Linked DNA regions of Homo sapiens. The protein of the gene in region 1 purifies or fractionates together with the protein of each later gene. This does not show direct contact. Each region holds a gene or a part of one and is shown on either strand. Other genes may lie near its edges.

Region 1 (5,339 bases):
TAAATATAGATCTACATTTTAAGCAAAGCATGAATCAAGTCACATATTTAATGTCAGTATAATTTTAGAGGCATGCCAGAAAGAAAAAGGGGATGTGAGTACGTAAAACTTATTTATATTTTTATTTATGCTATTTCCTACAGATTGAAAATAAATTTTCAAGAGTACCACTTCTCCAGCTAATCTACTCTTAGTAGAGTCTGAAAATGCTGTGGTTATCTAGCAGTGCCCTCTGGTGTCCAAATGAATTGTTTTAGTTTGCCTTGAGGGAAAAAATAAGCCATTATATAATCAGACACGGCTATAATCAGCATTCATTCATTTGCCAAGTATTTACTGAGGGTTTACTATATGTGAGTTACTGTGCAAAGAGGCAAGATACAGAGATGTATTAAAAAATACATTTCTTGTTCTGTTCTTAAGGAGCCCAGTCTAACAGGGAGACAAATGTAAACTCACTTACAAAATTACTTAAATCACTTTATCTAGTTTTTCATTAAAATGAGACATACACAGCTGGGTGGCCTCCCTTTCCAAAAAGTTCTGGGCCATTATTCATGTTAGGATGTGTCTGGCTGGCTTTGGACAGAACAACTTTGGTGAAGTACACAGGGAACATTCTGAAATAGAGTAAACATCCCAAGACATACAGCAGGATTCAATCCTAGTTTAAAGAGTTGGGAAAGCGCCTTTCACAGCCAACCCCAAAAGACACTTCTGGTTTTGTAGTTATATAGGAGCCCACTGGTCAACAGATCCGACACACAAATCTGACATTATCCTTACACTTCTTTCTGAAAATGCTATTTTTCTAGAATTATAATGAAAGACCTCAAAATGAATCAAACGAGAGACTTAAGAAATCAAGAGACCCTAAGAATTTATCATAAACTGTTTGAGGATTCTTAGACCTGCAAATTTTCCACTAGAGTCACCCAAACACATATTGTTCTGAATAGGTCCATCTTCATGTCCTCTGGGGAAGCAGAGGGAGCCTGAAGGAGTTATGGAGACCTCCCACCAAGAATAAAAGTGAAATTCAAATACCATCAAAGGAAGGAGTCAGGAATGACTACAGATGAAGAATGATGCTTTATACTATTTTGTGATGTTCCTAATTTTCATCATTTTTCCATTCTTGTTATTGTTGTTTCCTAATCAGCCATGAAACCCTAGTGTGTAGGCAGGACCTATGACCTGCTTCCAATCAACAGAATACGGCAAAGGTGATGGGATGTATGTGATTACATTATATAAGGATTATAAGGTCCATCTTGCTGAGACTCTCCTTTGCTGGCTTTGAGGAAGCAACCAGTTATATTGAGAAGGCCCACGTGGCAAAGAGCTGAGGGTGGCCTCCTGCCAATGGCATATAAGCATTGAGCACTCTCAAGAAATTGAAGGCTACTAATAACCATGTGGGTGAAAAAGCTGACCCTTCCCCAGTCAAGTCTCAGATGAGACTGGAGCCCTGCCCAACACCTTGACTGTAGCCTCATGGAGGACCCAACTAATCTGTGCCCGGGTCCCTTGCCCACAAAAACTATAAGATAATAAATGTGTGCTGTTTTAAGTTGCTACATTTGTGGTAATATTATTTTGCAATGATAGATAACTAATACAGATTTCAAGACACCTTTTAATTTTAAAACATTTTTATTATAAAATACAAATAAAAACATTGAGAAAAGACAAAGTCATCCATTTTCTGCCTCCTATCCCACTATAACCAGTTAGTAATTTGATTTACTTTGTTATCTTTTTATCATATGCTTGGTCTGTTATTTCAGCCATGATTACACCCACTTATACACTTTTCCGTCTTGCAATTTTTACTTAAGGTAATATTTTCATGTTTTTAATAATATTCATTACTAATTTTTAATAAGTACATTATGTATCATTTGTATATATCTGTTTATTGACTATTTCCTAGACCCAGGGATGACAAACTATGGCACCACATTTGTAAACAAAGTTTTACTGGAACAAAGCCACGCCCGTATTGTTTATGTATTGTCTATGGCTGCTTTTGTGCTTCATACAGCAGTGTTGACAAGTTATGACAGAGACAGTAGGTTTAAAAACCTAAAATAGTTACTTTCTGGCCCTTTATAGAAAAAGTTTGCCAATCTTTACCCCAAACTTTAAAGTGGTTTATAATTTGGGCTACTAAAAGTAATGTCACTTGGAACATCTTTGTGCATATAATTTTTTATACTTTGTACAATTTGAGAGACATTAACAAAAGTGGAATAACTGGGTCTAATTAATGAAGACATTTTTACGGTTGATTCTCTCCCACACTGTTGTAATATTCAAGCTATGATATGTGATAAGAATGAAAAGGATAGCCCAGAACTCTTGTAGGTAACATGTCTCTGGTCCCTGTTACTTAAGACACGTAAGTTACTTAAGACACACTCTGGATGAACATATTTTGAGTTTTGATTTAAAGTTAACCAAAAAAGAGAAATAACAGTAACTGCAATGGGAAGACCAATTGAAAGAAATCTTTTACTTTTTACTGGAGAGGAAAAAGTAAACAGAAGTGGGTGACAAGGTACATATAAAATGCCATTCTACGGTAGCTGCAGTGGCCAAAAGGCACTGGGGAGAGCTGAGTAAGAGAAAGAAATGGCAGTCTCAACAATGAGCTGGCAGTGGCAGCAAGAAACAAAGAGACAACTTTGAGTGTGGGATGACAAAAGCAGCACACAGGTCCCACCCATCTGAATACATCCTAGGCATAAACCTGTATATAACTGTAATTAAACTGTCTCTAGATAACAAAGTTTTAAAGAAATCACCCTATATTTTTTAAGAAGGAGAAAGTCTTCTACCTGGGGAAGTTTTACTCTTCAGAATGAAAACCTTATGGAATGGGGAAGTCAACCCTCACTATGTACGTCAACCCTATTTCTGAGATAAAAGATGAAGCAGTCTGATGGGTCTCAAATCCAATCTTGTATGAATAAAACAAGCATCAGGAAACATGGATGTCATCTTCTAAGAGAAATATTCTGGAAAAAAAAAAGATCAGGATGGACTTTTCTCCGATAAACAATGTAATCCAAAAGCAAAATTAGAAAGATATTTAATGTAATTATCCAAATTATACCAACAAAGTATGTAAAGAAATCACATATAGCACATTTATCTTATTAAAATGTTCCTGTCAAAATGTCAACCAATTTAACATTTCTTAAATAAGCGTTTTTTTACTTACAACTATTATTAGCCTTTACATTCCACCTCAGCTACTCACTAAATAATTAAATGCATGATGACTTCATAAAATACTTTGGAAAACCATGAAATTCTCCAAAGAGTAAGGAAATCAATTTTTTTTTTGCAAAAATAACTAGGAACATGCTACTTTGAACAAAATATAACCAATTTTCTGACGTCTGAAAATCAAGACTTTTTTTCTTGAATTTTCCCTATGGCAAAGGAAGTGGCAGTTCTGTGACTGACTTGAGTCACACTTAAAATCACGTCATAATTTTCCTCTTTTTGTACTTCTTGCTGTCAGTTACCTCAAAACTGACCTGAGGGTCTGGCAGCATAAATCCATCAGTAAGTTTATAATAGACTATTGTAGAATCAGACTCCACTATGGCCAAAGTAAAAGACATCGGCAAATCTGGATCACCTTGCAACTTTCGAGATGCCTTCAAGATCTCCCTTATCCTGAAAATAAAGTCACAATATACTTAGGAGTTGCGGTCACTCAATTAGATGAGATGTGACAGAAGAAAGCACTAGAAAACTTGAAAACAGGTCACAAGAAACCAAACTGAAGTAAAAAGAGAAAAAATAATTTTAAAAAATAACATCAGAGTCTTCTGGTATAGTATCAAATAAGTTCAACATTACACATAATTGGAATCACAGAAGGAAAGGAAAGAGAATGGTATAGAAATAGTTGACAGTTTTCCAAAATTGTTGTCTCTGAATCTGAAGTGTATCTTTTGTAGATAGCATATAGTTGGATCTTGTTTTTATATCCAATCTGACAATCTCTGCCCTTTTGAGTGTTTATTCAAATTTAAAATTAACATTGGTATGGTTGGATTCATGCCTGCCATTTAGCTATTTGTTTTCTATATATCACATGTCTTTTTACTTCCTCTCACCCTCCTTTATCACCTTCTTTTCTATTAAATAGGTATTTTCTAGTACACCATTTTAATTAATGTATTTTTTTTTACTATAGTTTCTTGAGTTTCGTAGTGATGACTCTAGAGATTACTATTGCGTCTTAGTTTATCACAATTTCTCTCAGCTTAATACTAACTTGATTCTAAAAAATATAGAAATTGCTCCAATAGAGCTTTATTCCTTTCCTCCACCTTTATGCTATTATTGTCATATATGTTTATATATTTAAACCCAGTAATATAGTGTTGTAATTATTACTTTAAATAATTTTCTTTTTATAAAGTTAAGAGGAGAAAGGAAAATATATTAGGGTCTTTTACATTCACATATTTAATATTCCTGGTATTCTTCATTTCTTCACATAACTGTCTGGTGTCATTGTTTACTCCAATATAGCTTCATTCCTTCCCCCATCCTTTGTGTTAATAACATCATATAAGTTACTTCTTAACGTGCTATAAGGCTGGTCAGTTGATTTTTGACAAAGGTACAAAGGCAATTCAATGGAGAAAGTCTTTTCAAGGATACTTGAAATGAAGATAGTAGTACACCTTTATGTTTACACATAAGATTATTATATGAATCAATTAAATGGCATATATGAAAAGACTTCATAAACTGTCAAGTGGTCATATTATGTAGTATATATACAACTTTGCTACCTTGCAAATTGGGATATAATATTTATAGATACCCCTGCCTCCATGATTATTGCTAAAACTGAATACTAACCCAAACATACTAAGGTACACTGTGCCATTAGTGGAAATACAGAAAATGTTTCTTTTCTGAAACAGTCTGAATCCCAGAAATTGACTTAGTCCTTAAAAAATTATTTCCACCTATGCTGAACTGCATTACAACTAGCTAGATTCTTATTCACAAGAATGATTTACTTTAGAGAAAGATATTCTGATAAAGCAACGATAGATATTAATCAGAAACTTCATTACTCAGCACTGATGGGAAGTCACACTGTGATAAAAGGCAGCATATCACAATTGCTTCTTCAATGCAAATCTTTTAATGTAGCTAAGTATTTTCCTTCTTCAAAAGTGGCACGCCAATATCTAAATTAATAATAATAGAAAAAGATACATTTTTATAGGCTGTCCATCTTGAATTAATTTTTTTCTACAAAGATGGCAAAGAAGAAACAGACAATGGATCAACTA
Region 2 (2,267 bases), on another chromosome or scaffold:
ACTAAAGGAAATAAGAAATTAGTATATGGTAAGGATAATACATCACTCAGCTGTATACAGCAGTTACATAATCTCAATAATGTACACATATCCTTAGTGTAATCACAGTCAACAATGTAAACATTGAATTGTTATGTTGGGAGGAGAAAAGGGGATAAAAAGGGAATGTGTAATGCTGGGAAGCAGAAGAGGGAAGCTTTATTTTGAAAATCAAAGAAACAATGCCTAAAATTAAAAAATCAAGTAAAAGCAATATAAGCATGTCATTTGGAGACATGGTAATAAATAACAAAAAAAATAACATCTAAAAGAGTTGAAAGGGCTTGCCCTGGAGACAGGAAATGGAAGAAGTCAGAGTAATGGCCTTTTTCCTTAGGAAAAAAATCTTACAGATCTATCCAATTTTTTAAAGCTGTGTACACATGAAACTTTGATTAAAAGTAATAGAAAAACTAAAAACTAAAAAACACAAATCCAACACAGTGTCAGGCTCATAGAAATTCCATAATAAATGTTCATTTTTTTATTATTATAATGACAAGACAAAGTTTTTCATATCACCATTACACTCATGCTAGGGATAACAATACTTCCTCTATTATAAATGCTACTTGACCTTTATTTACTATGCTTGGCATAACTGGGCATGCTTAATAAAATAAAAAAAAAAAACATTCAAATTTTTTTCTTTTACTAATCGAAGTACCTAATTTTATACAATTTGCACACTTTTAATGTTAGTAACAGAAACAATGAAATTATTTTACTTCTTGATACTTAAGAGTTTAACTCCAAGACATGCACTACAACCACATAATAGATTTTTGTCATCAATATGATGGTCCTGGCATCTTATATATTAAGTTCACACTTTAAATTAAGTACTACTTGCTAAAACGAAAACAGGTAAAAACAATGAACAGACGGTTCACGTTAAGAGGAATACGAAAAGCCAATAACAATACTGACATAACAATCTTATTTGTAATGAAAGAAATACAAATTTTAAAAATGACATACCATTTTTTAATTACATTGGCAAAAATTAAACCAAAAAGAATACCTACAATTGACCAAGGAGTATTCTGGCAGGGGGAGGGAAGTCACATACATATAGTACTAATTAGAGGGGTAAATTGTATAATTAAAGCCCTATGAACCAGTCAAACCAATCATTCCACTTTTAGAAACTTTCTCAAGGACATAATTAAGCATGTAACTCAAAATGTACAAGGACATTCACTCTGCCACTGCTTGTAGTAATAAACTGCAGATAATCAAAATGTCTAACACAGAAAAAAGTGAGTAAATTATGGTAAACCTTTCTTATGGGAAGGCAGTGGGCTTCCAATTCCATTCTTCACACCTAGCTTAGCTTCTTTCTTTTCAACAGAGTCTACTTCTAACAGAGACCAAAAATGTCAGACATTGCCTTTCTCTGTAACCTGATCTAAGTCAATGGAAACTGAGGGGAAATCTTCTGGAGGCTTTTGTTAAAAATCTTCCTCATGGATAAAACAAATGAGAGACGAAATGGCCTTTTCTGCCTTTGAGATACAATTTTACAAAGATGTAAAACTGGAAGTTATAGCAGCAGCTCTTGTGATCGAGAGGTGGAATAGCCTAAGGCAAAACAAACCAACTGAGGTCAAGGCAAAAAAAGTGTGTCTTTAATGACACCCCTGAACCCTGTGTTATGTCAAACAATTTCCTAGGTTACTTAGGCCAATTATATTTGGACACTGTTACCTCTGGCCAAAAGCATCCTAACTTGTATTAGCTATACAACAGAGTACATTAGAACCACAAAAAGTTATGTTACAGAGGTATATTTATGAACAGTAGATGTGCAGTTAAAAAGAATTTACAAAACAGTACGTTTCCATGTTTTTAAAAAAATCAAATATGTCAATATGGATTCATTTGCCAAGAAAAAGGTCTGAAAAGATACTCAAGGTTTTAAGAGTAGTTATCTTTGAAAGATAGCATTTAAATGTTTCCTTTTGCTTATGTGCATTTTCTATTTTTTTCTACAGTTAGCATGTATCACTTTAAGATTCCGCCATCCTTCCTATCAATTCAATGCAATTTAGGAAAGAAAGAGGTAAACATGTATTCCAGTGAGCTATCTTGAACCAGAAGTCTGCTTTTTTTTTTTAATTGGAAAAGTTTCTGTTCTTTAAAAAAACTTTCGTGAAATAAAATTTGATACTAAACAAGCATTTATTTTTCAGTGAATACGGAAGATCACAAACAGTTTTCATTTC

The links. The genes of interacting proteins can lie anywhere in the genome.
Region 2: the proteins of TSEN15 (region 1) and AASDHPPT purify together in Homo sapiens (co-immunoprecipitation; 2 studies listed by BioGRID and IntAct, with this or other methods). This does not show direct contact.

The regions. Positions count from the first base shown.
Region 1 is NC_000001.11:184,070,511-184,075,849, reverse strand, and holds the end of TSEN15 (tRNA-splicing endonuclease subunit Sen15), read right to left. Parts: intron 5,235-5,339; exon of another isoform or gene 5,118-5,234; intron 3,694-5,117; coding exon 3,552-3,693; coding exon of another isoform or gene 3,540-3,551; intron 3,024-3,539; coding exon 3,003-3,023; coding exon of another isoform or gene 2,987-3,002; 3' UTR 1,638-2,986; downstream 1-1,637. UniProt on the Homo sapiens protein: Non-catalytic subunit of the tRNA-splicing endonuclease complex, a complex responsible for identification and cleavage of the splice sites in pre-tRNA. It cleaves pre-tRNA at the 5' and 3' splice sites to release the intron.
Region 2 is NC_000011.10:106,096,929-106,099,195, reverse strand, and holds the end of AASDHPPT (L-aminoadipate-semialdehyde dehydrogenase-phosphopantetheinyl transferase), read right to left. Parts: 3' UTR 501-2,267; downstream 1-500. UniProt on the Homo sapiens protein: Catalyzes the post-translational modification of target proteins by phosphopantetheine.